3 separate regions of the Homo sapiens genome follow, and all the other regions are linked to region 2. Evidence: fine-mapped QTL for protein levels in blood plasma. Region 2 holds a variant in brackets. A gene starts in each other region. All regions are shown on their forward strands.

Region 1 (10,868 bases), not on the chromosome of region 2:
AATTACACAAACCTAAAATATTTATAGTAAATTTTATAATTACACTATAACTCAAACTCATCAGCATCTCTCCTTGTTTAAAGTTCTCTGCTATATCTGTTTTTTCTAATGAGAAAAATCAATGATAACTTAATCCACAATTTATACAAATCTGTACATACAAATATGTGTTTGTAACAAAAGGTAGACCCATATAGTATTTATAAAATGCACATCTACAAGGAATAATGTAACTGGTGAAAGGTGAAACAATATATGCTCAGAAGTCAGAGGAAGTATAACGCTTCTGCCAACTTAAATTTGTTCTTTCCAAATCCACTTATTTGTGAAAGGTCATTTGGCAGAGGTAAAATCACAATCTTTCACTGAAGTTACTTGAGCACAACTTTGAAAAACCGTTTGTCAGAAAATCTTGTTAAGCCTCCAGTTAAGCAGTCGTTCTTATAATATTACCATGGATTAGGTCATTTATAATTTATCTTTAGTCAAACGAACACCATGTGGTAAAGCCTGGAAGAAAGTCTGGGTTTATTTCCGTTTGTCCCGTTGTGGGGAATTAGGACCTAAATAAATGCAACAAGGTGCCCCTAACTGCAAAGTCACACGCAGTGCTTTTCTCTGCCTTCCTGCACGCTGCTATAGTGTGCCAAAGGAGACCAGCAGAGGGGCTGAAAGGAGTCTGAATCACAGGCCCAAAGGCCCAAACCCATTACCACATTTCTCTAAAACATACATGCTTCTCGATTTACGATGGGGCTACATCCTGACAAATTCCTCCTGAGTTGAAAATATATTTAATATACAGTAGAGTACCTGTTGTTTACTCTCACGATCACATGGCTGACTGGTCACAGCTCACTTCCATTGTCCAGCATCCAGAGAAAGTATTTTACTGCATATTATTAGCCCAGGAAAAGATCAAAATTCAAACCTTGAAGTATGGTTTCTACTGAATGTCTATCGACTTTGCACCATTGTAAAGTCCAAAAGTCCTAAATAGAACCATTCTAAGTCGGGGACTGTTGGTATATGCCATAAAACTTTTTTTAAAAGAAAAAAAGGAAAAAAACATCTATTCTTTTTCCTGGTTAAGTCATTCAGATCTTGGGTTCATCATCCTTAATGAAATAAAATAATGTCCATATTATGGAGGTGTAGTGAAAAACAAAACTAACTTGCAAAGCTCTTTGCGAAGTGCTTAACACACGTTATGAACATCACAGATAATGATTATAAACTCCTACTCTCAATAACAACCCCAGGACTGCCAAAGGCAAGCAGGCAAGCACAGTCCCAGGGATTCGGGAAACCTTCATTAGTCTCACGCCAGTTCCTCTGTTGGTGAAAACCCCAGCAAGAGCTGAGAAACAGCATTCTGGGTTGGACACATGGAGATAACTAGGAGGCCAGGACCTTCCTCTCAAGAGGAACCGGAACCAGAACTGGAAGTCCAAAATGAAATCTAAATCCACTACCCTCCGTCTTTCTCAACTCAACTGAAAAGGACAGGATTAGAGATCTACGGGTCTTAGACATATGCCACTAAGATCAGTAATTAACTGCTTTCTATGAAGCAATTTTGATAACTGTCTTGTGAATAAATAGCTATCAATCAGATATTCATAGTTCAGAAGACTATAATGGAGTGGAAATCAAAATGAAAGATGAATTGAACTTTCTATATCTAAAACCTCATATAAGTAGCATCACTCAGAGGAATGTCAGAAATCTCTTATAAGAGTAGATGTTGACAAACATAATCATATACTATAAGAAAAATTGTAAATAGAACAGCTTCAGACTTGCTATTCTCTTTTGTTCCCATCATGTCCAGTTAATTTTACTTTTGCCTGCCTTACTTTTTTGACACTGTCTTGTTTGTGTTAACATCCTTCAGAGAAACATTTTAAGACTTTTCAGTAAGTCATGCAACCACAAATAACTAGAAATAGGAATCCAGTAAATGCAAATATAAGTCGAGGAATAAGGAGATCTTCATTCTATTTGTGATTTTTACCTACAATCTTTTGCATGGCTTTACGGGTGGGCTGAAGGGCTGGATGGCTAACCTTGGTTCATAGTTTGTGTGCTATTTTTGATTTTTTAAATATTAAAAAAGTTCCTAGGTGAAAGTTATGAAAACATTGCATCTATTGGGATTATAGATATTTAGCATCTTCTGTTTACCTTCTGAAATATTTTCTTGGGGTTCATGTAGTTATAGAAAATTAACAATTGATTTCTCCCCAGTTCTTCTCTAGTGCTTAAATCTAAATGTGGTGCTTGTACAGGCCACTAGGGAGAGACATAGAGTCTTCATATCAGTTTCTTGGCAGTTGTGTGACATGTTTCATAGCAAGGACACAGCAGTTTCACTGAATGCATTAATGACACATGCCCTGTCAAGGCTCTATTCACCCACTGGGGAACGACACTTTAATGGAGCAATGAAATACTGCTTTGTGGTCTATGGAACTCAGAGATGATGTTTCATATGGGAAATGATGTTTCATCACATAGGAAAGGAACCCACATCACATGCAGAATACTAACCCATATTCACCATACAGAATATAAAAATGGTTAAATATGAAAAGCGACATTTGCAAACAAAAATGCATAGTGATTTTCACAGCAATGGTAAAATTTGCCATATCACCAATGGCAAATTTTACATCACCAACGAAGACACTTTTGAAAGTTAAAAATAAGTTAACTTTTTTAATCCTCCAATCCCATACCTATACATAACACACGTAAACACACACACACACACACTCAAGGTACATTAATTCTAGACTCACCCAGCAGTGAGTGACTCTCATACAGGCTATTGGCTTATCAGGGAATGTTTCTCATTTTACTCTCTACTGCACATTTTCTTACTGTAAACCAAAGTAAGTGACCGTAACCAATACAGAGATGTTGCCTTACTAAATCATACTTTTACTAGTTTTGACTTTGCAGAAATAGCAAATAGGTACTGCAAAATCAAGGACTCAAATTATCAGAAGCGTTATTGAGCCGATTATTACATTTCTGCGGTATTTAAGAACAGAAAGATATTTTCATCACTATAGTTACGGCAATGTAAGTATAGGCACTGAAAATTATTTTTGTGATTCACAGAATGCAGTCTGTTCTATTTCATGTATATTGTTTTTACTCAAGAGGCATTCCTTTAACCCCTATATTAAATTATTACACATTCCAACATTTTAATGTTTTCCCAAAATTTAAATGCAAAGGTAGTTTGATTTCCAAAAATTAGTCTTCTCAATCTTTAAGTGTATTTCAAAATATAAATATAAATAAAATATTTCAAAATATAAGGCTATTTTCTACACATTGTGTATGTGTTAATCAACAGTCAAATTAAAGTTGACTGTAACACACCACAGGTACCTCTCCACTTGCCACCAGTTGAAATAAACTACCGCAGTATAGTTCCAGCAAGGGGTACTGCAAGTGTTTGAACTGAAATGTCGAATATAACTTCTTTAGGAACTCTCTTAAGCATACTCTATATGGTTATGGCAGGTATGAACTTTTTAGATAAAGATATACTCTTTTGGAAGAGCCAGTAAGAAGTAGGAACACACACAAATCCTTTTTCAAAATCAGGATGCCTCAAAAGTATTTTGGCAACATTTTCAGGCAAAGGATTAAACACCTCTTATTTAAAAGAAAACAAAACAAACAAAAAACCCAAACAAGAAAAAAAAAAACTTAGTTTGCAGTATCTCATGACCAGATTTTAGGAATGAAGAGCTTATAAAGTTGAAACAAGCCTTGCATTGCTTGATTGTGATCTAACTGACTCTAATCTCCCGTTACATCTCAAGTCTGACCAACTTCAAGTGAACTCTGAAAGCTCTGGAGCCTGGTTACTAAAGTCCCTGACACTTTTTTTCTAAAGTCGCTCACAGCGCCTGGTGCTCTGCAGACTATGAACACTCCAGGAAAGTAAGGCTGGGTTGACTGATCACCAGTGTCCCAGAATCTGTTTGGAGTCCCATGAATCAGCTGGGGAAAGAAACGAGCATTTCCCGACCAAAATGAACTCATACTCTCCAGAGCCCCGCTGACTGGGCAGGGTTCAAGACCCCTTGGTTGCCCCAGAGGAAACCAGTCTGAAATAGATTTCGGGATCTCTCACTGGGCACCTCTCCGGGCCCTTCACTCGTGTAACTTGCTTGCCTCTCTAGTAACAACTTTCTATTTAAAAAGAAGAAGATTTTTCTCCAAAGCAGCGTGCACTGAGCTCAGTAACTTTGGATCCCACGTACACAAGCTTAAAGCACACACACTTTCCCCCGCGCAGGTTCTCGGGTCCGCCGCAGACCCTAACGCAAACTCTCGGGTTCTCCGCAAACCCTAACGCAGACCTACCGTGGCCTCGCCCGCGTCGGGCTCCGCGTCCGAGAGGTCGAGTCCGGACTCGAAGGCGGCGGCGGCGGCGGGCGCCTCGCGAGGACCCGGGAGCAGCGCAGCGGCGAGCAGAGAACACGCCACAGAGAAGAAGCCCAGCAAGTGCATGGTGGAAGGACCGGGGGTGGGGGACCGGTCCGCTGGCGGGGGCAGGGGTGGGGGCGCGGGCGCCCCTGCGAGGCCGCGGGCCCCTCCTGGTCCCTCTCCCCCGGGCTCCTCCCGGCGACCCCCCCTGGGCGAGCCGGAGGCGGCGGGAGCGGGTCCGGGGCTCCGCGTTCCCAACTTTGCAGGGCGCCCTCCCAGCCAGTGCCGGGGAAAGGCGGCGGGTGTCAGGTAAAAGCCTCACAGGAAACCGGACATCCGAGCTCCCCGCATTCGGAGCCCGCGAGGTGAAGCGAGGGCGAGGGAGGACGCCGCCGCGGTCCGCGTCGGTGTAGCTTTTTGGAGAGGCGGGGCGGGGGACACCAGAACACCCCGCGATGTTCAGCCCCTCCAAACCCGCCAGAGCCCTCGTCCCCCTCCTCCCTCCCCTTCCCCGAAGTGAGAGGAGCCGGGCCGCGGGCGCTGCGGCGGGGGCGCTGGCGGCGGTGCCGGGGGCGGGAGGAGGGCGGCGGGGCGGCTGGCGGCGGCGGGGCCCGGGAGCGCCGCGGCGCAGGATCCTCCAGAGCGCGCCGGGCTGAGCGGCGGCGGCGGCGGCGGCGGGCGCAGGGGCAGGGCATGACTGACGCGCCCTCTGCCTGCGCTTATGTGAGAGAAAGCGGCCGAGGGAGGGAGCGTGCCGAGCCCGGGCTGCCCTCCCCTCTCACTCTCCCTCGGAAGCCGTCTCCCTGGAGCTCCCCGTTTCCCTCGCCTCCTCCCCGGCGGCCCCACCTCCCCCGGCCCCCCTCTGGATCTCTCCCTCCCCGCCCCTGTCCCCTGCGGGGAGCGGGCGGCCGGAGGGGCAAGTTCAGTCCCGGGGCTGGCGGTTGGCGGGACCGGCTTTAGAGGTGATGCGACCACCCTGGACCACGTGCAGCGGGGAGAAACTGGGCACCGTGGGGTGGAGGGAGCCCCCGCTTTATCCTCGGCCACTCCCGAGTTCTTGTCCTCCCTCCCGCACGCCTGGCCCCCAGAGCCCTGCTCAAAGTTTGGAAATGTCCTGGGGGTTGTAAAAGTTCCAAGAAAAGGTCATCACTATGTCAGAGAACCCTATGGGACCTCGGAGGGGTCCCCTCTCTCCCTTGGTCTGTGTAGTTGAAAGTTGCCTGATGATCCAAGAACCGCAGTTCTCAGGATGCAGTGCAGGCTGTTGGGATGGATGCTAATGATCCCTTTGGAATCCTAAACTTCTGACAGGTGAAGAGAAGGGCCAGAATCTTCGTGGAGAGTAAAGAGACACATTGTCAGCTTCTGCAAGAAGTTGGTTTACTTGAAAAAGGGGGTGATAAAGAGAGATGTGTGTGAGACATATTCCAGAAAGGATGTGTAGCATCCAAAGAAAAGTGACTGCATTTCCCCATTGGAAAAGCACTGGGGTTTCCGTTGGGCTGGTGGCATTGGCTAGCTGCCTCCTTGGGGCAGGGTGAGCAGGTTACAGAGGACCACGCTAAGGGGTTTCAACAGTGTACAGAACATCAAAAGTCTGCCTTTCACTCCCAATCTACTTTTAAGTACACAGATGTTATAGGTCCATAATATCTTACCGGAAGAAGAGACTTTCTTATCTGGTTCAACTCTAGATTTGAAACTCCTCACCCATAATTTACTTGAAGGCTTAAATATCTCAAAGGACAGGGAACCTTCCATTCTGTGTGGCTGTTCACTCCCTTTATTGATGAGCAACACTGCTGAAAAGCATTTCCTTCTATCTCTCTATTGCTTTTGACTCCTGGAGTTTTACACAATAAATCTAATCTCACTTCCACAACTGAGTCCTTCAAATATTTTGAAAATATTTATCATGGTCTCCCTAAGCTAACTTTACTCCTGGCTAAATATCCCTTTTATTCCCCAAGATGACAGTTCCAGTTTCCCCCCTTAACCATACTGTTAGCTTTCCATGTTCATGAAGTATGCGGTTGAGAACATGGCTCGGTACTTAGTGCTGTAATGAGCATGCAGAATGGACAGTATGCCTTTGTTGATACAGCCTTGGATTGAGTTTATTTTCTGGCAGCCAAATCACAGTGTTGACTCACACTACCCTTAAAGTCAACAAAATTCCTCAATAATTTTTCATATGTACTGCTACTTAGTCACGTCTAAATTCCCCTGTATTTGTGGAGTTAAGTTTACTGTATCCAAGATGCTTTTTTATGTATCTTTATGAAATTCCATCCCATCAGACTCGGTCCATGATCTAGCCTGTTGAGATGTTTTGTGATTTGGAACATGGTCAGTGTATCACTCTCTTGCTGTCTTCCTGCTCTATGCATATTTGATCAGCCTGCCATAGTTATCTTCAGACATTGATAGATCTGTGAAAAGGGAACAGCTAAGGGCAGACTGGGGTAGGATTTGAATAGAAGGTGGAGTTTCCATTCAACCATTTGCTATTACAATGATTCTAAACTTTGATTGCACTTGGCATCACAAAAGGAGATTTTGAAAAAACAGATGCTTGAGTACACCTTCTGCCTTTCTGGCTTAACTGGTCTAACTGGAGTAAGGCTTGGACATCAGGATTCTAATAGGCAAACAAAATTGAGAACCACAGGCATTTCCAACACCCACAGGCCTAGCAGCGGGTGAAGACTGGAAAATCAACAAACTCAAAATATATCCAAAATATATTAATATCATATTAACTACTGTTTCATTTAAATACAGCAGTAAGCTGTATTCAAACTTTTTTCTCACAAAAGTGTTATCTTCCTGCTGCTATACTTTGAGTCAGAAAATGCTGGCAAAAAGTTTATTTGAATAAAAAAAAGGTCTCCAAAAACAATCATGCAGTAGTTGTTTGTCTTAAGGTTGGTCGGGCACGGTGGCTCACGCCTGTAATCCCAGCACTTTGGGAGGCCGAGGCGGGTGGATCATGAGGTCAGGAGATCGAGACCATCCTAGCTAACACCGTCCATCTTAGGGAGACCATGATAAATATTTTCAAACGTTGGTGAAACCCCGTCTCTACTTAAAACACACACACACACACACACACACACACACACACACACACACACACACACACACACACACAGAATGTCTTAAGGTAAAAACGAATAGTTGCTCAGGACTTTTTGGTTTTTTTTCTTCCTTACCCCCTGGAAACACTTTTTGCCACTAGCAGATTTTAAAGGTTGAGAAAGTCCTTTTCACTGGTTTGTGAGTTCATCACTAGCTTCATGCAAGACCTATTTTACAACAGGTCTTCTAAATCTGGTTATTCAAAAAGCATTGCTCAGTCAGTGGAGAAAGAGAGGTAGCAGGGCCCCAGCCAGAATAACACCTCTTTTACATATTGAGTTTTTGTTTTCTTTGATGATAGGTTTTGTTCTTTGTGTTTTGTGTCTGTGTGTGTGTGTGTGTGTGTGTGTGTGTGTGTGTTTGTTTGTTTGAGATGGAGTCTCGCTCTGTCTCCCATGCTGGAGTGCAGTTAGAGTACAGTGGCACCATGTCAGCTCACTGCAACCCCTGGGTTCAAGCTATTCTCCTGCCTCAGCCTCCCAAGTAGATATGGGAGATGATAGTTTTGGATGGCAAAATAATGATGATAATATATCCATTGTACATTCTCTAATATCCATTCTGACCATCTACTTTATTTCTCATTTGTTATTCCCTACCTTCTTGCTTTGTTAGTTTTACTTTGTTGCTTCATTTCAAGCTTTTTTAGCTGAATGCTTAGTTCATTTTTCTTCTTTTTAGTTTAAAAATACAAGTTTCGGGCCATGTGTGGTGGCTCACATCTGTAATCCCAGCATTTGGGGAGGCTGAGGAAGGAGGATCACTTGAAGTTACTTTGAGACCAGCCTGGGCAACACAGCAAGACCCCATCTCTGCAATCAATCAGTCGATCAATAAAATACAAGTTTTGTCTAAATTCTGCTTTACTTGTATTTCTCAATTTTGATACGTAGTGCTTCCTTTGGCAAACAGTTGCAAATATATCTTAATTTGTTTATATTTTTAACCCCCAAATTATTTGTGTTTTCTTAGTTTAGGGATATATGATTTTTATCAATTTCTAATTTTATTATATTTAATTTTTGCTATAAATGATGTTGCTTTTAGAAATGCATTCAGGCTTTCTTTGTAGTCCTGGACATGGCTGATCATTGCAACTAATTCTGTGTGTGCTTTATTTTTGTTGGGTATTAATTTTGAGCTTATTATAATGTTCAAATCTTGTTTGGGAATGACGTTAAAATCTCCAGTTATAATTGTTGACATGTTTTTCTGTTTCTGACAGTAGTTCTTCCTGTTATTTTTTAACATAATGGGATACTATATCATTTTGATCTAATTTTCTTCTTGGTAGTATACAATGTCATTTTTTTAACTTCTGATATTTTTATTTGAAGTTCTACTTTTTCTGATATTAAAATCATAGGCTTTAAGAATTGAGATCAGCTGTGAACATGACTTAGGTAAAACTATGAACCAGTTATGTACACATGACTTAGTTGTTTCTTCTAGGAAACATTAGCCTGGAAAAGATAAGACTGCAATCCAGTATTTAAATTCAGTGTTTGCTTCAAGAAATGCTGGCAAAACAATATATCGAAGATAATAATATTCTGACTCTGGTAAACAGCCTGCTTATTAATGACAGTTTTCTTACCCAAACTCTCACTTACAGATGTTAACTGATCCTAAACTACTAGATCATGAACGTTGCCCAATCTTACTCAATTCCCCACTTTGAAAGACCCACCTTAAACTACTCGTGTCCAGACTCCAAAGCTCTACAACTATTCTGCTTCTGACTTACCCAAGACACCCTAAGACCCTGTCCAGGTGGCACTCTCCCTTACTGCTGTAGGTTCGGCTAAATGGAACTTTTGTTTATTGAAAACTTTTCTACTGATATTTTCGGGTGTACAACAACTTGGAGGTCCCATTGAAATCCTTCTCCCTAGTAGCTCAAGCAAAGATCCTAAATTCAAAAATAGTGCAAATCACTGAGGCCTCTTGAGCTTCCTGGCTTGGTGGGGGGAATCACTCTGACTGCAATGAAGGGTTATGTCTTCTGTTAGATTTCAGTCCCAGTTTCTTTTTATCAAGCTACCAAATGCTAAAAGATCTCCTTTCAAGAACCCTTTGATTATTTGATCAGACTTGAACAAATTTATCCTCAATAGATATCTGCCTTATTACTATTGCTTTTTATCCCTGCTGCCTTCATAATTTTCTCATGGGAGTCAAAAAAAGGAAGTTCATAAGAAAGAGAATAAGCACGGGTCCTGTTAAGTCAATTCACTGAGCCATCCCTTGGGACTAGATGCCCAGAAGGATTGGTATTGACTAGACAGATATTGCCATAAACTTTATCAAAAGCTTATACAACGATTTGAAGTCTTGTTTTGTCTGTGAGACACTGATTTTGAATGAGATCTCTTGGTCAAACTTTCCGTCTTCCCAAACTGCACATTTATCAGATTTGCCACTGGAGATTACCTAACCTTTAGTTTGGGGAGCCAAGGGCATGAGGTACACAAACAACTCATTTGACCACCCATTGCCAGATCATTTTGCCTTTGTCTCAGATTAAACCCAAGTTCATATCCCCTCCAAGCCATATTCCTGCCTCCTACATGTATTTTGCACTATAACTGATACTATGTATCTCTGTCTAAACAGCTTAATTTTACCAACATTAATTTAGAATTTCAGAGGCCATTTGAGAAACCTTTTGTAAGAACAAAACTGTTCATTTGAGAGGTGCCTTATGGAAAGAGAGTGAAATTCCAAACATTCAATGATATGTATGTTCTGATTGATATAAGAAGTCTTACAATAAAAATACAGATTCCACAATTGCTTCAGTAATTGTTCCACGGAAGGCGCAAATGAAAAAATGTGAAAAGCTCTTTTTTAGATCTGCCCAAATCACCACTTGACTCAAAAAGCTTTTACCTTTACTATTCCTGTTCTCTCACCCAGTTGCCCTCCAAGTTCCCCTTCCCTGACACTCTTTCTGATGTCCCTTTTCTTCTGGCCAGCTAGAAACACTAAATGCTCAATTGGCTCTTAAAGTTGACCAAATCAGTATAAGCTCATTATGGCAGATTTTAAGCCCTGGGTTGGGTCTAAGGTAAACGTCATTTTCAAAAACTTCCAAAGTCTATGCAAGGTAGGTATAAATTTACAGAGAAATTTGCAATAGTTCTAGGAACACATAATTCAGGGTTCCCAGATCTCTATCAACTGATTTATAGGTTATTATCAACCTCAAATGCAACAAAATGTGTTGGAAAAGGCAGTGTGAATACCTTGAGTATGATTTAAGAGACTCC
Region 2 (10,868 bases):
GAGTTTGAGACCAGCCTGGCCAACATGGTGAAACCCAGTCTCTACTAAAAATACAAAAATTAGCTGGGTGGCAGGTGCCTGTAATCCCAGCTAGTCGGGGGAGGCTGAGGCAGGAAAATCGCTTGGGATTACAGGTGCCTGTAATCCCAGCTAGTCGGGAGAGGCTGAGGCAGGAAAATTGCTTGAAGGAGGCGGAGGTTGCAGTGAGCCCAGATCCTGCCGTTGCACTCCAGCCCAAGACTTTGTCTCATTAAAAAAAAAAAAAGAAGAAGAAGAAGAAGGAGGCACCCTGGATGAAGACTCAGGCTCCAGAATTTACTATCTGTATGTCTTGGGCAAGTGGCTTAGCTTCTCTGAGCCCCTGTTTACTTTTCTTTTGAAAATGACCACCTTGTCCATGGTAATGAGGATAAAAAACGTGTAAAGTGCATAGCAGAGTGCAGGTGTACTGGGTAGACATGTATGATTGCGCTGTAGCCCTGTTATGGCCCGGGGAGAAACTATGAAAGGAACCAGTGAAATCTTTTGTTTTGGGCACTGCTAAATTGATGATAGTACTAACCCTGTGCTAGCAGCCAGCTGGTGAAATAATAGGTGAATAATGTTAGTACATTGTGAATATAAAAGTTTCCATTTGCAAAGTGCTACTGCTGTTCTAAAGAAGCCACATTTCTAATAAATGATTGCTTAATCCTGTGATGCTGCCACAGCCCCACAGAGTTTGGGAATGTTTGGGAATTCTTTCTGAAGTGTGTGCCGCATTCTTTTGCTTTGCCTTTTGGGAGGGTAGATGTGACTATTGGAAATGGTCAAAATAATGCAGTAGCAAATCTGTTGACTATAGTGAGTGATAAGCACTGTCGGCTGCTGTGTCTGACTCGGAAGGCAGATTCTGGAAGGGGTGTGTGGGGAAGGCTTGTTGGCTCAGCACTGGGGTGAGTGTTGGCCTCACTTCTTAGGTGGGAAGTGGACAAGGCCAAGGGGCTTTTGATTTCCAGCTACTATGGCTGGACTCCCAGTGAGGAAGGAGTCGCTGCCATGGATTGCCTGGGACTGGGAAGACTCCTTTTAACTGCTGTAATGTTTCTGCATTTGTGGTTTGGCCTCCTGTGAGTTTGGGCTCCGGGGCGGCACTTCTGTTGTTAAAAGAACAGAAAAGAAAACAAAACAAAACAAAAAACCAGGACTGTCACTGTTAGATGTTGGTTGAGGCTAGAAAGAATGGATTGAGTTTTGACCCCCTACACCCCGGGGAGTAGGGAGGCCTGGGAGGCACAGTGGCCTGAGTTTGAATTCTGACTCTGCCTCTTTGGAAGGCTCTGGAAGGTTAAAGGAGCTTGTGTGTTCAAATCTTAGCCTGGTACCTGGCATATACTCAGCATGTATTTTTTTCCCCTTTCCTGACAATGTTCCTTGCCCCGAACACTTGAATAGTGGAGAGAGGAATGTTTGCTTTTCCTCTCCATTGAACCAACACTCGCCCATCCACTGAGCCCAAGATTCACCTTAGGATTGTCTGTTGGACTCGGCTCTTTTGTGACCTAACAGTGCAGGGGCCTTGTGCTGAGCTGCACATGCTCGCTCTCGCTGGTGCTCCCTCTCTCTCTCTCTCTCTCTCTGCATTATTTATAGTAAACCATATTAGAACAGAGTGTTAAAGAGGAAGGATGAGTCATTCCCATTGAAACCATTGATGACATAAATAAAAGCAAAATGCTTACTATGTGTTTTGTGCAGTATTTAAGGCCAGGTTGTGCTAATTTGAATGCTCCCAAACTGGATCTGTGAAAGCATACATATGTGGGAAAAAATTCAGGTTTAACTAGAGGGAAGTTATTTATTGAAAATCCATTTCAGTATCTGCTTTCTCCCTTCTATTTACTTCAGATCCATATTCATATCATGCTTGTTGTTCTGGCTAACGAGAGGGACTGGCTTATTCACTAGCTAAGGTTTGTTTATTTTCGGAAGGTTGAGGAATAGCACAGAGAGGTTGTCTAAGTGTCCCTGTCTCCATTCCTCCTCTTGCCACCTGTTGAGGAAGGCACTCTCCACCTGCTTTGCAGGCGTGGGCTCTCAATGTGTCCAAGAATCACAGTCAGAGCTGAAGGGCCCTTGGAATCATTTATTGCAGCATGCTCATTTGGGAGGAGTAAGTGGAGGTCCAGAGAGGTTCTGTGATTTTCCCTAGGTCACACAGCAAGCTAGAGGCAAAACCAGGACCCTCACTCCCAGCCCACTTTAATTCTTCCTTCACAAGCCTGCCTGTGACTGCCCAGGTCTGTTCTCTGCTTCTACCAAGGGGTAGGCAAGACTAGAATCTGACTTGAGAGCAGTTTCAGATCTTTGTCTGTGAGGGATGCTGGGGGGTTTCTGGCATGGTGACTTGCCTCCTGGGACACTCATTAACCTCTCTGCTGCTGAGCCTGAGCAGACTAATGTACATCAACTCCTTAGGATTTACAGACAATGCCCTATGTTGGGGGTTTTGAGACCCAAAGATTGCTAAGACATGGGACTTTTCCTTGAAGAGCTTATACTTTGAGTTAAAATATGTATGTTGATATCTATGACAGAGAATAGGAAATGGAAAGACTATGATATATATATTCAGAGTTGAAATGACTTCTGTCTGGAGTGATTCATTTTAAATTTTAAAACCTTGTTGAGCACTTACTGTCTGCTGGGCACCTGGGTAGGCCCTGGGAATACTGTGATGAGCAAGATAGACAAGACGTCTACCCTCCTGGGGCTTTCCTAATGGGGAAGAAAGATCCTTACTTAGCTAGCAGTCCTGTCCGTAACTGTGTAAGGGTGATTTTGATACATGTTGGGAGCCTGGATGAAGTAGCACATGAGTAGGATATTAAAGGATAAGTAGGTTTTGAAGACGGGGACAGAAAGAAGGAAAATTGTGGTCAGGGCCAGGGGAGAAAACAAGGAGTAACTTTCTTTGGCAGGAATGAGGGTGATTCATGCTGGAATGGTAGGCTGGGGTCAGACTGTGGTGCTATAAATGCGTGGAGAGAGATTAGAGAAGGCAGCATGAAGAATGGAGAGAAAATGAGTTTGAAGTTGAGCAGACCCGGGTTCAGATTTTCATGCTGCCACTTGCAAACTGTGTGATGTTGGCCATCAAGGACTGTGAACTGGCTGGGTGCAGTGGCTCACACCTGTCATCCCAGTGCTTTGGGAGGCCAAGGCAGGAGGATTGCGTGAGGCCAGAAGTTTGAGACTGGCTTGGGCAATATAGCGAGACGATCTTTACAAAAAAAAAAAAAAAATTAAAAATGCAGCTGTGCATGCCCATAATCCCAGCTTCTCGGGTGGCTGAAGAGGGAGGATGGCTTGAACTTATAAGTTCAAGGCTGTGGTGAGCTATGATCACGCCACTGCACTCCAGCCTGGGCAACAAAGTGAGACCCTATCTCTATTTCAACACAACAACAACAACAACAGCAACACACACCATGAACTGTAGCTTCTTCATTCCTACAGTGCAGTTATTGTGTGGGATAGCCTGAGGATTTGGGGTAGTGTACTTAACACACTCTGCACAGTGCCTGTAACAGTGTAGTTGCTCAATAAATATAACTGCTGTTTGTTTTAACTGCTGTTTCTTTTTGGACTTTATCCCGGGAGAGTTGGAGCCTTGGAAGGCATTTGAAAAGGAGAGTGACGTGACTGGAGTGCTCCATACTGATGTGACATCCACTAGGCATGTGTCTGACTGCCCCCTGCTCCTTCCCTGCCTTCACGAGCCTGTCTGAAAAGGAGTTTAGTGCGTGATCATCAGCTCCTAAGGAGACCTCTCCCCTGTATCTTGTACCTGGCACTCTACCAAGATTTGATGAGAGGACATGAAATGGACCCTTGCCACCTCTCGGTGGGCGGGGAAGCTGGGAGAGGGGCCTGGGGAGAGGGGGTCTTCAGCTGTCAGGATCAAAGGAAGTGACACTCTGAAGCTGGTCTGCCGGACTGTTACCCGTCTCTCTAACTCTCTTTTAATAGAAACCCAGTCTCCCCTCTTGCCTCCCTGATAGTGAACAGC[G/A]ACGCTATCTCCCGCGGGCCAGTCTCGGCTGTGGTCGTAGCACTACGCAATGTCTGCAAACCGACAGTGGCATGGGGAGATAAGGGCCCCAACGTTGTGTAACGAGGGGCATGGGCTGTTTGCCCGAGTGGCTCCTGGCCCCTGGGTAACTGCTAACCTCAACGGAGGAGCGGGCCGGCCTTGGAAACGCCGTTCCAGGGCCCCTCGCTGGTTCCACGGATGCCTTTTTGTGGTTGGATAAAGGAAGCTCATGTAGGCCGCCCACAGCGCAGCATGGCCTTGGGCTACGGGTGTTTGGTTGTTTTGTTTTTCTCTTTTCTTTGTCTTTTTTAAAAAAAGAAGTTGAAAGGGGGATAGTCTTGCTTGGCACCTACCACCTTTAACCCAAAACCAAATAAAACAAACAGTTCCTAAATATAAATTAAACTTCAACCTGCAGTATAGACATCCTCCTTCCCTGCCCGAAACCCACTGGCCACTGGAGGCTAGCTTTAAGAAATTGGTTTTGGAGACTCTGGCTTGAAAAGGAGCCATGCCCACTTGTCTCACGTCCCAGTCGCTGGCTCCAGGGGGCCGTGGTAGAACATATATTGTACTTCAGCTGCCTTTCCCCTCCAAGCTTCCTCAGCCACCCACAGCCCTTTCAGATGAGCTGAGCCCTAGCACTGTGCCCTCTCCCCTCTGCCCTCTTAGGGTGATAGAATCCACTACCCTGACATCTGGGGTTGCCCTGTTCTGCTGTGGTGGGAGATGGGCTGGAAGGGACTTCGGAGGCTCTCCCGTGTTCTGTACCACCCAGCTTCCCCTTGGATCCCTCCACCCCCGCAGCCAGGAGAGGGAAGTAACTGTTCTTTGAGCAGGACATTTCATTTTCAAAGTATTCTTGATGCCGCCCCCCCGCCCCACCGCCAAGAATTCTGCTCTGTGGGTGATACTTATAAGGTAACTATATGGCTTCCTTATTTAGGCAGCAGTTTCTCTTCTATGATTTTAGTTCCTCTCATGATTCTTATAACCCTCTCTCAGATACTTCCAGGATGATAAATCTTCTATCACTGTTTCATCTGATCACATCAGGGTGATTATATTTCGTGACATAACCAGGTGGCTTTAATCCGTTGGTGGAAGAACCAGGCTCTCACCTCCATTGTTTAAGATGTTATGTTTCTACTAATCTGTCCACTGAGTGTCTCCATCCTATTGTTTCCATTGCATGCTCTCAGGTTATTTCCTTTGTTCTTGGCTGTCTGATTGCTCCCAGAGGCTGCAGTTATTTTATTTTATTTATTTCATTTTTTGGTGGCAGTAGGGGATTGATCTCTCTCTTGCCTTTAGCTTGAATGGGTGGTCATTTCCAGGCTTACACATTGCTCCATGCCCACTGTAGGGGTCTGGCTTAGAGATGGTCGGGGGAGAGAAGGTGGTGATTTAAAAGATTTGGAGGCGGTGGCTTACATTGATTTTAGCTTATCTAACCCTTTAGCTAGAGGCTGCTCTTCCCTCAGAGTGTCCAACTAGCTGTAACTTAAAGCAACAGAGAAATGTATATCATCCCTTTTCTTGCATTAATTAGGGCTGAGAAATTCATTATTTAGAGGGATAAGAGCTCCGGAGGAGGAGGGTTTTTTGAACTAATGTAGAGATCTGTGGCCAGCTGTGTGATTCTCAGGTAGCAGGTGAGCGGGTGGGGGTTGATGAGAGGGGTGAGAAGGAGCAGGTGCCAGGGTCAGGCAGGGGAGGGAGCCCCCACTCCGTGCATCATCCCAGAGCCCTGTTCCTCCAAGCCCAGATTAGACACCCTTCTCCACGTGGGGCCTCAAGTTAGAAATCCTGGGAGGAGGCCTTATTGCTCAGGATCATCTGGGAATGTTGCTTTCTGGGTTTAAAATACAGTCAATGTTTAGATGAGCTGCTGTTCAGGCACATGGTCTGGTTAGCAAAGGGTTAAATCCTGCATCCCGTTTTTAGTCATCAAGCTAGCTCAGATCTGCCCACCTTGGAGCCCTGTGCTTTCCTGCCTTAGTGGGCAGAGTCTAGGGGACCTGTGGCATGTTCAATGATTGAGGACTCTTGTCCAGATTCCAAAAACCTACTGTGATGATGCTGTTCTGAAGCTGTGGTAGGCGGTGATTGAGTGGAGTGTGTAGTGACCCTCAGGAATTCTTCAGAAGTTAGGATTTTGACGATACCTCTGATAAGTTGGGTTTTTAATTTGCTGGTTTATCTTAGAGTGGAGGCTGTGGCCCACAGCAAGTAGTACATTTTCCATCTCAGCCCAGTGCATGGACAAACGTACCTCAAACCAAAGGTTCAATGAAACTCTATTTATCTTTACTATATGCTCTGGTATCTTCTCTTCCATTCTATCTTATTTCATTTAAGAACGTTAATGAAGACCCACTAATGGATTGCCACCCATGGTTCGAGGAGGTCCCCCAAACAGTGAGGCCTTAGCCATAGGTATTCAATTCAAAAAGCATTTACTGAGCATCACTGTGTACTAGGTGGTTGCTAAATGCTATGGGGGTAATGCAGAGAAATTAATAAATCCCTGTAAGAGTTCACTGTAAAACAGAAATGACAGCCATATGTGTATGACTTTGTGTGTGTGTGTGTGTATATATATATATCAGACTGTATGATTAAATATTATATAAGTGAGGTATGGGGGAGCAGAGGAGAGGAATTGAATTTTGAATTTTGATTGAAGATTCAGGAGGGCTTCATGGAGGAGGTAGCATTTGGCCAGGTTTTAGAGAATGGCTAGGCTTTGGACAAGTGGAGACAGGAACTGCCATTTGGAGGTAGGAGATGAGCTAATGTGTGGCAGTGTATGGGTGGGGGCAGGTGCCTGTATACAAGGTAGTGTGCTGGAATGGGGCGATGGGCATGGGGTAGGATGGGAGATCAAGCAGGGAAAGTGGATTGGGGCCAGGTCCTAGAATGATTTGAATACCAAGCTAGCTTTCTGGACATTTGTAAGGCGCACTTGATAGGGGTTGGATCATTGCGATATTATTGGAAGACAAAACTGGGGAGGGTGTGAGACCATGTGGCTGCTCAGAATGCAGAGCCCCTCTGATGTCCTCAGCCTTCTACGTATTTAGTGATGGGGGTGGTGGTGGTAAAGAGCCTTGCAGACAGCCTGGCTTGGGTGCTTGCTTGAAGTTCTTACGCCCACTAACTCCTGCCCTGCTCTGTGGAGCCTGCTGAATGGGGCATTAGGCTAGTCACACACCTGTCCTTTTTCACATTCATGCTGTACCCTTTGCAAACATTACGCAGCAGTGCAAACTCAGCCCTGGGCCTCAGAGGAGCCAGGCGTGGCCAGGAGAGTGGGATTTGGAACGGAAGTGCTTTTGTTTTTGGCATTCACTACTCCCCCACCCCCACTGGCACTTGGATTGTCCTTCTTTTTCTCCTTGGTGTCTCTCATCCTGTCCAGCCTTCAAGACCTCCTCAAGTCAGGCTTCTCTGGGAAGCGCTGTCTGTCTGTCTTGGTGCTTGCTGGCTTCCTCTTCTGTCTCCTGTGCCATCTCCAGTTTGCACCATTTGAGTATAAGCTCTGCTGCCTCGTTTGAGTTTAAGTTTTATCCCCCCAGCCACAACCTAAGTTCCATGAGGATAGTGATTGTGGTTTATCTTCTCTCCCTCAGCTGTCTGCTGACACCATGCTGAATACATAGTAGGTACTCAGTAAATAATAGCTAATTGAGCATTTACTATGGACAAAGCACTTTACTTGCATTAACACATCCCATCCTCACAACCACCTGTGAGGTGAATCCTATTAAAAGGAATACTTGGGTGCTTTCAGAGTTATTCTCTCCAGCTTTGGACTTCTTGTTTCATTTGCCCTGAGAGCTCCTCAACTCTGTTGATGCTGTTCTTTCAAAGGTTGCTTGTGACCTCTTAGTTCTCAAGAGCACTGTATTAGGTTGGTGCAAAAGTAATTGCTATTTTAGACATTACTTTCAATGGCAAAAACTGCAATTACTTTTGCGCCAACTAATACTTTCCCAGACTCCAGTATTGGCTCCATTGACCCCTCCTGTTCCTGCCAACTTCTCCCCCTCCTCCTCTGGTATTTCCTGGAACTCCCTCCCTAGGGTCAGTGCCATGTGGTGCCTGGAACTCCCTGGGATCTGTGTTTGAATCCTGACATTGCCACTTTCTAAGTGGCAAACACTTTGGCCACCTCCCCCTCTTCCTGAGTCTGTTTCATCATCTGCAAAATGCTGGTAGTTTCTCTTCTCACGGGAAAGATGGTGGTTGTTCATCGATGTCTGTTGAAACCGTGACCCTCTCTGCTGAATGTAGAAGAAGATGACCTTACCAGTTCTCCTGTCTCTCCAGTGTCTTTCTTGACAATCTTGTGGTTTCCACAAGCAACCCTCTGTGGGTGATTTCCAGATCTCTACCTCTAGTTGTTTTTCGTTTTTTGTCTTTTCTTGTGTTTCACACATTCTTTTCCAGTAGCCTCACGGGCACACCAGTCCTGCAAGGATCTAGAATGTGATGTGTTTGAGCTAGTTCAACACCTTCCTCTCGAATCGTCTCCTGTGTCCTCATGTTTTGTGGTCTCTGCCCTCTTCCCAGGCACCCAACTGCAGACTTTGGCATCATCTGTGGCTCCTGTCTTCCCTTTGCCTTCCATATCCACCATTTGCCTCTCCAGCCTACTTAACCAGATGGCTGTCCTGATTTCCTCACCAGCCTTCCTGCAGTGCACCCCTGCAAGGCTCATCACCCCACTTCCCTGAGCAGAGTAGGGCTCTGATGGGGTTGCTCTCCTGCTCTGAACCCTGCAGTGGCTCACTATGGCCTATTCTAGAGAAGAAACGAGAGAATTCTTAGCGTGGCATTCAAAGCCATCCGGGATCCTAGATTCCAGCTACATTTTCACTCTTCATCCCTTTCTCTGCATATTTCTTAGAATGTACACCCCTGAAGGCAGGGACCATCTTTTTCACATCTGTGTTACAACCTTTTAGTCCACTCTCTAGCATATGGCAACTCAGCAGATGCTGCTGTTGAGTAAACTCTTATGCTTCCCTTCCCATGCCATATCCTTCTCTGGTCATCGCAACAGGGCCAAATCTCTCATGCTTCAGTGTAAATGCCCTCTCCTTGCAGCATCCTTTCCTGGGGCATTCTTCCTCCTTGCATCCAGTTGGAAATAATATGTCCCTCCATTGGAGCTCCCACACCAGAAGAGGTATAGATAAAGCCAGATACTTCTTTTTTTTTTTTTTTTTTTGATACAGAGTCTCACTCTGTTGCCCAGGCTGGAGTGTAGTGGCATGAACTTGGCTCACTGCAGCCTCTGCCTCTTGGGTTCAAGTGATTCTTGTGTCTCAGCCTCCCGAGTAGCTGAGATTACAGACATGCGCTACCATGCCTGGCTAATTTTTGTATTTTTAGTAGAGATGCGGTTTCGCCATGCTGGCCAGGCTGGTCCCCAACTCCTCGCCTCAAGTGATCTTCCTGCCTTAGCCTCCCAGAGTGCTAGGATTACAGGTGTGAGTCACTGTGCCCGGCCTGGATCTTTTATTGTTTGTATTTCTGTTCATTTCTTCCCTAAGAAACCCCACGTTTTTGTGGGCAGGACCTGGAATCCTATTCAGTTATACAGCCCCGCTTCGTCCACTGCTCCCCTTCAGAGTCTAGTGCCCTGGACATCATAGGTATTCAGTACCTCTTGCTGGCTTAGGAACAGGAGGATGCCTGATGGCCAGGGTGTTCCTCTGAAGCAGGGGTGGCTGAGCTTTTTGAATATCTGCATTGTGCTAAGGGTTAACTACCCAGGCAGTACTGGTGGGGAAGGGCCCCAGAAGCAGGCCCAGACTCAGGTATTGTTAAAGCAGAGTCATCTTTGCTCTGAAGTTTTTTCTTTTATCTTTTCTTTTCTTTTTTAATTGGGGGAAACCTTGTCCTAATTGGCATCTTTATTGTGGCAGGAATAGGCCAGGCAGGGCTGGGGGAGTGTGAAGTCTGTGAAGGGAGGTGGCCTGGGGGCCCCCCCACACAATGCCTGATTGTGCAGGCATAGGTATGAACACATTGCAGCCTGTGTGCACCCACAGGGTGACCACGAGCAAGGCCTGGGGACGAGGACTACGAGGCCTGCAGCTGGGTCCTCTTTTCTCCCTCCTCACCCCCACCCAGTACCCACGTGATTGGGCCACATCCCAGTAACAAGCAGTCCTTGTGGAAGAGCCTTCATGAAGACCTTTGCTGGGAGTGGCGGGCAGGGATCTGCGGGGAGCGTTGCTGGTTCAAGCTGGGGCTTTCCTATGGATGATGTCCTGTGAAGGGTAGATCCTGGAGGGACAGACAGGTGTCTGATCTTTGGCAGGCAGGGATGTCTCATTTGTACATTATAGGTATTCAGTATCTCTTGCTGGCTTAGGCTTCATAATGTCTCATTTGTACATCATAGCCTTCAGTACCTCTTGCTGATTTGGTTAACCCAGTTGTTATACCACGATATTGATTTTTCATGCCATTTTCTTTAGGAAGATTGGAAGATCATTGAGGATAGGGACTGTGACCTTTTCTTTTTTTCTACCCCAGTACCCAACCTGGCAGGTAGCACAGCGCAATGATCCACGATGTTTAATAGGTTGAATTGTAGAGGGGGCCTCTGATTCCAAAGATGGGGGCAGAATATCAGTCCTCTCCAGACTGCCTGGGAATCCTCCTCTCTCCAGCCTGGGCCTGGCCAGTGGGAGACAGAGGCTGCTGAAGTAGCTGGCAAGGAGGCAAAGAAGATGATGACCTAGCTACGGTCCTCATGTGCCCACTGGGGAATCAT
Region 3 (10,868 bases), not on the chromosome of region 2:
ATCCCCATGAAGCTACCAGTGACTTTCTTCACAGAATTGGAAAAATCTACTTTAAACTTCATATGGAACCAAAAAGGAGCCCACGTTGCCAAGACAATCCTAAGCAAAACAGAACAAAGCTGGAGGCATCACACTACCTGACTTCAAACTATACTACAAGGCTACAGTAGCCAAAACAGCATGGTACTAGTACCAAAACAGAGATATAGGCCAATGGAACAGAACAGAGTCCTCGGAAATAATACCACACATCTACAACCATCTGATCTTTGACAAACCTGACAAAAATAAGAAATGGGGAAAGGATTCCCTATTTAATAAATGGTGCTGGGAAAACTGGCTAGCCATATGTAGAAAGCTGAAACTGGATCCCTTCCTTACACCTTATACAAAAATTAATTCAAGATGGATTAAAGACTTAAGTGTTAGACCAAAAACCATGAAAACCCTAGAAGAAAGCCTATGCAATACCATACATGCCATAGGCATGGGCAAGGACTTCATGACTAAAACACCAAAAGCAATGGCAACAATAGCCAAAATTGACAAATGGGATCTAATTAAACCAAAGAACTTGTGCACAGCAAAAGAAAATACCATCAGAGTGAACAGGCAACCTACAGAATGGGAGAAAAATTTTTACAATCTATCCATCTGACAAAGGGCTAATATCCAGAATCTACAAAGAACTTAAACAAATTTACAAGAAAAAATCAACCCCATCAAAAAGTGGGTGAAGGATATGAACAGACATTTCTGAAAAGAAGACATTTATGCAGCCAACAGACCATGAAAAAATGCTCATCATCACTGGCCATCAGAGAAATGCAAATCAAAACCACAATGAGATACCATCTCACACCAGTTAGAATGGCAATCATTCAAAAGTCAGGAAACAACAGGTGCTGGAGAGGATGTGGAGAAATAGGAACACTTTTACACTGTTAGTGGGACTCTAAACTAGTTCAACAATTGTGGAAGACAGTGTGGTGATTTCTCAAGGATCTAGAACTAGAAATACTATTTGACCAGCCATCCCATTACTGGGCATTTACCCAAAGGATTATAAATCATGCTGCTATAAAGACACATGCACATGTATGTTTATTGCAGCACTATTCACAATAGCAAAGACTTGGAACCAACCCACATGTCCATCAATGATAGACTGGATTAAGAAAATGTGGCACATATACACCATGGAATACTAGGCAGCCATAAAAAAGGATGAGTTCATGTCCTTTGTAGGGACATGGATGATGCTGGAAACCATCATTCTGAGCAAACTATTGCAAGGACAGAAAACCAAACACCGCATGTTCTCATTCATAGGTGGGAATTGAACAGTGAGAACACTTGGACCCAGGGTGGGGAACATCACACACCAGGGCCTGTCGTAAGGTGGGGGGAGCGGGGAGGGATAGCGTTAGGAGATATACTTATTGTAAATGATGAGTTAATGGGTGCAGCACACCTACATGGCACATGTATACATATGTAACAAACCTGCACATTGTGCACATGTACCCTAGACCTTTAAGTATAATAAAAAAAAATTGGTGTGGATGTATGTGTGGGTTCACATTGCTAAATGCATAGAGGAAATTCTGGAAGGATATGCAGAACCCTCTGGAGAGGGGAGAGGGATTAAAGGAATGATGAAGAGGGACTTTCCTTTTTTTAATTCTTTAAATTTTTATATTTGAAAATACACTAAGTATTTGTAACTTTCATAATATTAGGATAAATTCTTTAATTTTTGTGACATTTTTGGTAATTTTATTTTTTTGGTAATTTTTTACTTTTTTTTTTTTTTGAAATGAGAGTCTCACTCTTTCACCCAGGCTGAAGTGCAGTGGTGCGATCATGGCTCACTGCAGCCTCGAACTCCTGGGCTCAAGCAATCTTTCTGCCTCATTCTCCCAATTGCTGGGATTACAGGCAGCGAGGCCAAGGCAGGAGACTTGCTTGAGGCCAGGAGTTCAAGACCAGTCTGGGCAACATAGTGAGACTCTATCTCTACAAGAAAAATTTTTTTAATTAGCCAGGTGTGCCTGGGCATGGTGGCTCACACCTGTAATCTCAGCACTTTGTGAGGCCGAGGTGGGTGTATCACCTGAGGTCAGGAGTTTGAGACCAGCCTGGCCAACATGGTGAAACCCCGTCTCTACTAAAAATACAAAAATTAGCTGGGTGTGGTGGTGCACGCTTCTAATCCCAGCTACTCAGGAGGCTGAGGCAGGAGAATTGCTTGAACCCAGGAGGCGGAGGTTGCAGTGAGCCGAGATTGCACCATTGCACTCCAGCCTGGGCGACAAGAGCAACAAACTCCATCTCCAAAAACAAACAAACAAAAAATTAGCTAGGTGTGGTGGCATGCACCTGTAGTCCCACCTATGTCAGACCTCTTAGGGACCACAATTGGAGTCCCAATTGTGCAGAACAACATTGAGTCACAAATGTATATTCGTGGTAACCTTCCCTAGCCAGAGTCTTATGATTAAAACAAAAGGTAAACGTTTTAGGATGCAAGCAGCAAATCTCTAGCAAGTATTGGTGTGATTCAGTAGCCATTGTACTCTGAGAAAGAAGGTTGTCAGTGGGAAGGCAATTTGGGACTCACTGCAGCAAAACCTCCTAACTTGAATCTGCTGGGCACAAGTGAGCCTTAATCTTAATGTACAATAAAACAGCCAGGCCCACAAAGTCCTAGATTGTGGGTTTAAATAATCAGGCTCAGGGCCACCGAAACAGGATGATAGACATGTTTATGGATTCAGTATTGAGTTCTGGGAGCCAGCAGCCACGTCAGCAGAGGTGGAGTGTGCCCTACCTTTGGGCAGAATCCAAGGCTTTTAATTATAGATAAAGTCACCTGCTTCCTGATTTATGCAAAACACTTAGGGAATGCCAGTTATTGAGCCATCACAACAAGATAGCCATTTAAGACACCATTAAGATAAGGGAACAGCTTTCTGCCTCAAGGAAACAAAATATATTTCCCAAAGTTCCAAACTGGCACAGGCCTTTTTCCTATTCCCCTTGCCAAGGCCACCTGTCCTCTTCTCTGCACTGTTGAGTTGTTGAGTGTTCTCTACCTTCCTCCCTCCCCACTTGGTTTTCCACCCCCTCCCTGGAGCCAGAATCACTTAAGTGCCTCCCACAGGGCACCTGGCTTACATGGACACTTGAGTGGAAGTTTGTTAAGAATAGCTGTGGCGTTGCCCCTCTATTCCACGACTGTTCTCAGGCCTACTTGTGTATTTTTACCCAGTATCACTTATTTTTAAATGACAGAAGTTTGGAGCTTCTCAGGCAATGTGATTTTCCTGTGGCCTAAACTGCCTTAGGTAAAGCATCGAGACTAACCCAAAAGGCTATTGCTGGGTCTCTCGGCTCCCTTCCTTATTATCACCAGCAGCCGTACCTTTTCACACACCTCTGCATTTTGCCGTTCCACCCCACCGTCTCTACCAGGACTCAGTCCCATGTGAAGGTGGGTCCTGGGTATGGCAGAGCCTTCCTCATTACCCTCTGCCTCCTCGACCTGCTGTTCCCTCCCTCCTTTCCTGTAGGAGAGCTGCCGCTGTGGGGACAGGTGGGAGTAGGTCAGGAAGCTGGATGGAGGTACACATTTCAAAGTTTTATGTAAAAAATTTGAGTTGGTGGAATTACCAGAACTAGGAGTGAAGCCTTAGCAGGTAGGCCTTTCAGAAATAGTGAAAATGAGTCCCCAAATCTCAATGGTGAATTTTTCTGAGAAATGTTACAGAAACATAAAGTGACAAATTTTTGTCTTTATATTGATAAGATAGATAGATTAGTAGAAATTGAGAAGAGATTGTCCAGGTTTTTTCTGTTGCTTATTTGTATAAGCCCAGTACATTGACGGACTATATTGGGAGTCCCTAAGCAAATGCCTGCAGGGACCAGGCAGTTAATACAGCAAACTTCAGAGGCTCATCTGCTTTAGCCAGTTCTTGCCATGGTATGGTGGAATCATTGTTGCCACATCTGATTTCTCAAGAGAAGCTTTAAAATCCAATTTGTATGTGTGTATGTATGAGTATGTACATGAGAAAGCTTTCAGTTTTAAAATGTTGGCTCAGATTTTTAAAAAGCAGACCAAAGACTTATATTCCACCTCTGCTCTAGACTTAGAGAATCTGTTCAGGATAAAGCTTAAAGAAAAGATGACAATGGAAAAGAGTCATTGGTCAAGTATTAAGTACTGACACTTAGGGTTTCCTGAATATAGTAGTGAGTGCTACTTTAGAAGAGATTCCCTCTAGTTCAAATGCAGTTACAATCTCCAAATACATGCTAGCAACTCACGATTTAAATTCTCTTTGACATAATTTGTATGGTTCAATCTCCCTCATCCTGCTTTTCTTCTTTTTCTTTCTTTCCTTTCCTTTCTTCCTTTCCTTCTCTTTCCCCTCCCCTCCCCTCTTTTTGTTTTTAACAGATGGGGTTTTACTATGTTGCCCAAGCTGGAGTGCAGTGGCAATTCAGAGTGCAGTGGCAATTCACAGTGTGATCATAGCTCACTGCAATCTTGAATTCCTGGCCTGAAGCTATCCTCCAGCCGTAGCCTCCCAAGTAGGTGGGAATACAGGCATGCACCACTGTGCTCAGCTCTGCCCTCCCTTTTTAAAGGTCAGACTGAAGTTTCAGTTTTCTGTATCCATAGAGCTGACTTTGCTCAGGAAATTTACAACTTACCTAATTTGAACGCAGCTGGCCAAGTCTGTATTTCCCTCCAGGAATGTGCACAGTTGTGTTCAGACCGTTTAGCAGGTTGGGGTGTGGAGGAAGACAGATGAATAGTAGGGGCTTTACTCCAGCCTCTAGCTGGGGATTTTCTAAGATACTGTCTTCAGAAAAGGAAACATAGCTCGAAGTTGTACCTACATGGAAGGACCTCATCCTCCAGGTGGCAAAAATTTGTAGTATGCCTGTTAGAATGAGGTTCCTTCCTGAAACTTCTGGGAGATCTAGAATTTAAAGCTATGTCATTCTCTTGTAGGTAATCAGAAATCAATTGGAAATTCCTGCTTGAAGAGATAGATATTCTTGCCCCACCTCAATCCTTCCAGCACAGATTTGGGAGATACCCCCCTTTCCAGTGAAGGCCTAAGTGTCCAGTGCCCCCACTCACCTTCTGAGGCATGTAGGGCCGCACAGACAGCCAAGGCCACGATGGCGAGTCCTCTCTGCTGCATTCCTGCCTGCCCTACTGGCACTGACAGCAACACAAGTGAGGCTGTTCGATCAGGAAATGAGGCTAAAGGTGTCCTTGGGCACAGAGAAAGTGCAGAGGAAAAGTAAGCCAGGTGGCCCCGCCCTGGGAGGTGTTCAGGGTATCTATTTCTCATGTTTCTTTCCTTAAGACCAGGCTCCTCCTCGACTTATTAAGCTCCTAACTTGTGTTCATCCTGCCTGGGGGTCAGGGGATGTCAATGGAGATCTGGCAGCTGGCAGGGTCACTGTGAGGTGGGGTGTGCATCAGAATCATTTGGGGAACATTAAAAAAAATCAATCTAAATGACTCTCCCCTTTCCCTGATTTGTAAACCAGAACTCCCAGGTAGGAGACCAGTCATTTGAATTTTGTAAAAGCTCTATAGGTGATTCTGATGGACACTTATGTTGAGACCCATTGCATAATCAGTTTTTAAGTAGCTTATGGAAACCATGAGTTTCTGGGGACAAGGGTGACAAGTCATAAAAAATGTATCTTTGTGGAAAGATATGGAAGTATTAAACCCCACTTTAGTCTTGGTTCACAGCCAAATTGTTTCCAGTGAAGCTTTTTACAATAGCTTATTTAGGAGAAAGACAGGAAGGGGGGCAATGCCTTGTAGAAAAGAGCCCAAGAGCAGGTGTGAAGAGGCATGAGCGCTAGTGCAGCTTTGCTGCCAATCAGCTTTGTGAATAAAAGCATGGGGTAGCATGAAGATAATTGGATTCTAATTGTTCCTCATCTACTAATAAGTTGTATAACCTCAGGCAACGTACTTAACTTTGCTGTAAATAACAAGTCAGACTAGATGACCTCCAAAGTCATGCCATGCTTCCTCTAGAACTGTGTTGTCCTATGTGGTAGCCGCTAGCCCACATGTGGCTCTTGAGCACTTGAAATATGAGTAGTCCAAACTCAGATGTACTATGGGTATAAAATTCACACTGGATTTCAAAGACTGGGTACAGAAAAAAATATAAAATATCTTGTTAATAATGTTTATACTGTTTATTGATTACATGATAGTATTTTGGACTTTTTGGGTTAAATAAAATATATTATTAAAATTAATTTCACCCATTTCTTTTTATGTTTTCAAATTACTGCTGTGGTTTGAATATTTTTTTCTTCTCCAAAGCTCATGTTGAAAATTAATCCCTAATAGTGCTGGGAGATAGGGCCTAATGGACAATGTTTAGGTTATGATGGCTCCACCCTCATGAATGGATGAATGCTACTATAAAAAGGGCTTGTGGGAATGGGTTGGTACCTTCTGCTCTTCTGCCAGGTGAGTACACAATGCTCCTTCTCTCCAAAAGATGCAGCAAAGTGGCATCATCTTGGAAATAGAAACTGAAATCACTGGAGCCTTGATCTTGGACTTCCCAGCCTCCATAATTGTAAGAGAATACATTTCTGTTATTTATAAATTGCTCAGTCTCGGGTTGTGGTGTTATGATATATATATTGGCTTTTATCCATGGTTCCTGGCTTATAACTCCCATAACCCTTGTTACAGTTTTTTTTTGTTGTTTGTTTGTTTGTTTTTTTTTTGAGACAGAGTCTCGCTTTGTTGCCCAGGCTGGAGTGAGTTTCACCATCTTGGCAAGATGCTGGTCTTGAACTCCTGACCTTGTGATCCACCCGCCTTGGCCTCCCAAAGTGCTGGGATTACAGACATGAGCCACTGTGCCCAGCCCAGTCTTTTTTTTATATTATAATGTTGGGGCACTTTAGGCTTCAGGAACAGGCCTCAGGAAACGGAATCTCTCTCTGACCTTCTGTTTTTCTTTCACCTGCCCAAGGCAGGACTCTAATCTGATTGTGGGTCATAAGATCCTCATTCCAGAAAGGGTTCTGTCCCATACTCTAGAGGAAGGAATGCTACACAGGCCAAGAAAAGCCTGAACAGGCAGGACTTGCTGGGTTTAGATTATGTGCTTTTTGTCTAATCACATTTCTACATGGTTGTTAATCATGCCTATGTAATGAAGCCTTTGTAAAACCCCAAAAGGGCAGAGTTTGGAGAGCTTCTGGATAGCTGAACATGTGGAGGTTCTTAGAGGGTGGCGTGCCCAGGGAAGGCATGGAAGCTCTGCATCCCTTCCCCCATACCTTGGCCTCAAGCGATCCTCCTGCCTTGGCCTCCCAAAGTGCTGGGATTACGGGCATGAGCCACTATGTCTGGCCTTCATCTGTATCTTCTGTACTGTCTCTTATAATAAACCGTTAAATGTAAGTATTTCCCTGAGTTCTGTGAGCCACTCCAGTGTTGCAGGAAGTCAGGAACCCCGAATGGAGGGACCAACCGGCTGAAGCCATGGCAGAAGAACATAAATTGTGAAGATTTCATGGACATTTATTAGTTCCCCAAATTAATACTTTTATAATTTCTTACGCCTGTCTTTACTGCAATCTCTGAACATAAATTGTGAAGATTTCATGGACCCTTATCACTTCCCCAATCAATATCCTTGTGATTTCCTATGCCTGTCTTTAATCTCTTAATCCCATCATCTTCATAAGCTGAGGAGGATATATGTCACCTCAGGACCCTGTGATGATTGCGTTAACTGCACAAATTGTTTGTAGAGTATGTGTGTTTGAACGATATGAAATCTGGGCACCTGGAAAAAAGAACAGGATAACAGCAATGTTCAGGGAACAAGAGAGATAACCTTAAACTCTGACTGCCGGTGAGCCGGGCGGAACAGAGCCATATTTCTCTTCTTTCAAAAGCAAATGGGAGAAATATCGCTGAATTATTTTTCTCAGCAAGGAACATCCCTGAGAAAGAGAATGTGTCAGTGAGGGTAGGCCTCTGAAATGGCCACTTCAGGGGGTGGCCATCTTTTATGGTCGAAGCTGTAGGGATGAAATAAGCCCCAGTCTCCCATAGTGCTCCCAGGCTTATTAGGATGAGGAAATTCCTGCCTAATAAATTTTGGTCAGACTGGTTGTCTGCTCTCAAACCCTGTCTCCTGATAAGATGCTATCAATGACAATGCATGCCCAAAACTTCATTAGCAATTTTAATTTTGCCCCGGTCCTGTGATCCTGTGATCTTGCCCTGCCTCCATTTGTCTTGTGATATTCTATTACCTTATGAAGCACGTGATCTCTGTGACCAACACCCTATTCATACACTCCCTCCCCTTTTGAAAATCACCAATAAAAACTTGCTGGTTTTACGGCTCAGGGGGCATCACAGAACCTGCCAACATGTGATGTCTCCCCTGGACACCCAGCTTCAAAATTTCTCTCTTTTGTACTCTGTCCCTTTATTTCTCAGACTGGCCAACACTTAGGGAATATAGAAAAGAACCTACGTGAAATATTGGGGGTGAATTTCGCCCGATATCTGGCTGAATTTCCCCCATACTCCAGCCAATTAATCAAACCCATAGAGAGGTTGTGGGAACCCCAACTTGGAGCCAGCTGTTCAGAAGTTCTGGAGGTCTGGACTTGTGACTGGTGGGAAGTAGGGGGTGATCTCATGGGACTGAGCCCTCAACCTCTGGTTCTGGCACTATCTCTTGGTAGATAGTGTCAGAACTGAATTGGAGGACACCTAGCTGGTGTCCGCTGCTTGGTGTATGCACCAATTTACCCCCTACATATTTGGTTATAGAAGTCTTCTGTGTTGATGATTTTTGTGGTATGAGAGCAGAGGAAAAACAGTTCGAGAGTTTTTTTCCTCAAACAGAGATATTCTGTTATAGCAGCATAAAACAGACTAAAACAATTACATATGTAATTGAAACCCAGAATATTTCAAATCACATGGGTAGATCACATATTTGCATTGGGTGTTGCTGCTTTTGAAGATCAAGAGCAGGTGTCCAAATTTACCCCAGCTATCAAGTTACATTTAACCAAGCTCCAATTCACTATCAAGAACCAGAGTTATAATAAGGAATGGGAGCTTTGGAGAGCAACAGACTTGCAAAGATAGTGACCTCTTGAATGAGAAGACCCACAGCAGCATTCCAGCCTTTCCACTAAGCAAAGGGACCTTACCACAGGTCTTGATAAAGGAGGACAGAGAACCAACCTGTGGAGGTGACAAAGACCTGTGAAATTACACACACCAGCCATAACCACAGGAGCCCCTCTGGACCAAAGCCGTGTGCTCTGAAGATAAGAGTCAGGAGGCTGGGTGTGGTGACTCATATCTGTAATCCCAACACTATGGGAGACCAAGGTGGAAGGATTGCTTGAGCCCAGGAGTTTGAGACCAGCTTGACCAACATAGCAACACCTCAGCTATACTAAAAATTTTTTTAAAAATTAGCCAGGCACTGGCATGCGCCTGTAGTCTCAGTTACTTGAGAGGCTGAGGTGGGAGGATCTCTTGAGCACAGGAGGTTGAGGCTATAGTGAGCTATGATCATGCCACTGTATAACACAGTTATTAGGGCACTGACAAGAAAGGCTGGACTGAATTTGAATGAGCCTGCAATTAGGCCCCCTGTATTCACTCGTGTACTTTTATTTGCTTTTGTATTTGACAAGACAGCTTCTCTTTCACTGTGTGCATATTTCTTCTGCTAGGAAATGTCACCTTGCCCCTGCCAGCAGGAAGACATAGGGACAGAATCCAGGGACTTGGAAAACAAAGGGACTCCTCCTTGGGTTGTTAGCACTCTCCCTTTCATCCACACTTTCCTGGGGGCACTGGAACAGGTTCGTGGGTTGGGTAGTGGTTACTAGAAGACAGCTGCTATAACATGTAGAACCAAAACTATTGAAGCACTCATGAAATTACCACCACTGGAATTACAGCCTTATGGGAGGGTATTATGTTACCCTGGTGCTAAAAAGCAAGCCTGACATCTGCCAACAGGAACCTGTAAACCACTAAAAACCCTATGCCATGTCATTTTTTTTTACTAAGTTTTTGTACTAAGACATGAATAAGAGGAACGCTGGGCACATCAGTTTTGTTTGGAGTGAGAGAAAAACTGAACCATGGGATTTTTGTCTGCAGAGAACACAGGACAGTTTATGATTATGGGGCATGTGTGTCTGTGTTTGAGAGGGATGCTAACTAGGCAGAAATGGACCACCGATAAACTAGGAAGGAGCCCCAAAGGGGTGGATTCAGATGAATAACTTTGATTACCTAAGTATTTTTCTCTGTGCACAGGGACTCTGCAAAAGAAAATGAGGAGACAGAAATGTGTGCCGTTAGGGCCCAGAGGATAGTTGAGCCATAGAATGAAACAGTTGAGGACCTAAAACTATGTCTGGTTTTGTGTTTTCCATTTATGAAATGGTCCTGGCTAAGAATATCTAGATGTAACCTTCCAGGAAAAAAACAAAAAAAATTACCAGGAAGAACCACATAGTTTTTACTTTAAAAAGAAGTAAATTGTAAATCTCAAATGATCATAAAAATACCTGCTGCCATCTCTGCACTGGGCAAAATGACCTGCTTGGATTAGAAGGATGATTTCCAAACAGTAACTTTCGCAAAATAAAATTAAGCCACTGAAGCTTTCTTGAATATTTGTCTTGGAAAATTAGTATATGGATGGAATATATATATATATGTGTGTATCTATATATATAAAAATTTTTTTTGAGATGGAATTTCACTCTTGTCACCCAGGCTGGAGTGC

Direction of the effects. Positions count from the first base shown, and alleles are read on the strand shown. Strength reflects both the effect of a copy and how common the allele is.
For the plasma level of the protein whose gene starts at base 5,150 in region 1, A is the low allele of the variant in region 2 and G is the other (weak association).
With allele A in place of G in region 2, the plasma level of the protein whose gene starts at base 5,300 in region 3 is lower (moderate association).

Evidence for each region. PIP is the posterior inclusion probability: the model's chance that the variant is causal. The UK Biobank Pharma Proteomics Project read protein levels with antibody pairs (Olink). The fine-mapping took linkage between variants from a reference panel, not from the people measured, so its PIPs are less certain.
Region 1: VEGFC starts here. The variant in region 2 is fine-mapped to the plasma level of the VEGFC protein (UK Biobank, PIP above 0.99).
Region 3: it holds the start of CCL28, and the variant in region 2 is fine-mapped to the plasma level of the CCL28 protein (UK Biobank, PIP above 0.99).

The regions. Positions count from the first base shown.
Region 1 is chr4:176,787,773-176,798,640 of GRCh38, forward strand. VEGFC (vascular endothelial growth factor C) reads right to left here and starts at 5,150. Exons shown (of 7, transcript NM_005429.5): 1 at 4,393-5,150. The coding sequence starts at 4,539.
Region 2 is chr11:114,078,849-114,089,716 of GRCh38, forward strand. The region is part of intron 2 of ZBTB16 (zinc finger and BTB domain containing 16); the gene reads left to right. Among named protein-coding and RNA genes, the nearest start is that of ZBTB16, 25 kb to the left of the region's middle. The variant G/A (reference allele first, on the strand shown) is at 4,052.
Region 3 is chr5:43,407,092-43,417,959 of GRCh38, forward strand. CCL28 (C-C motif chemokine ligand 28) reads right to left here and starts at 5,300. Exons shown (of 3, transcript NM_148672.3): 1 at 5,162-5,300. The coding sequence starts at 5,225.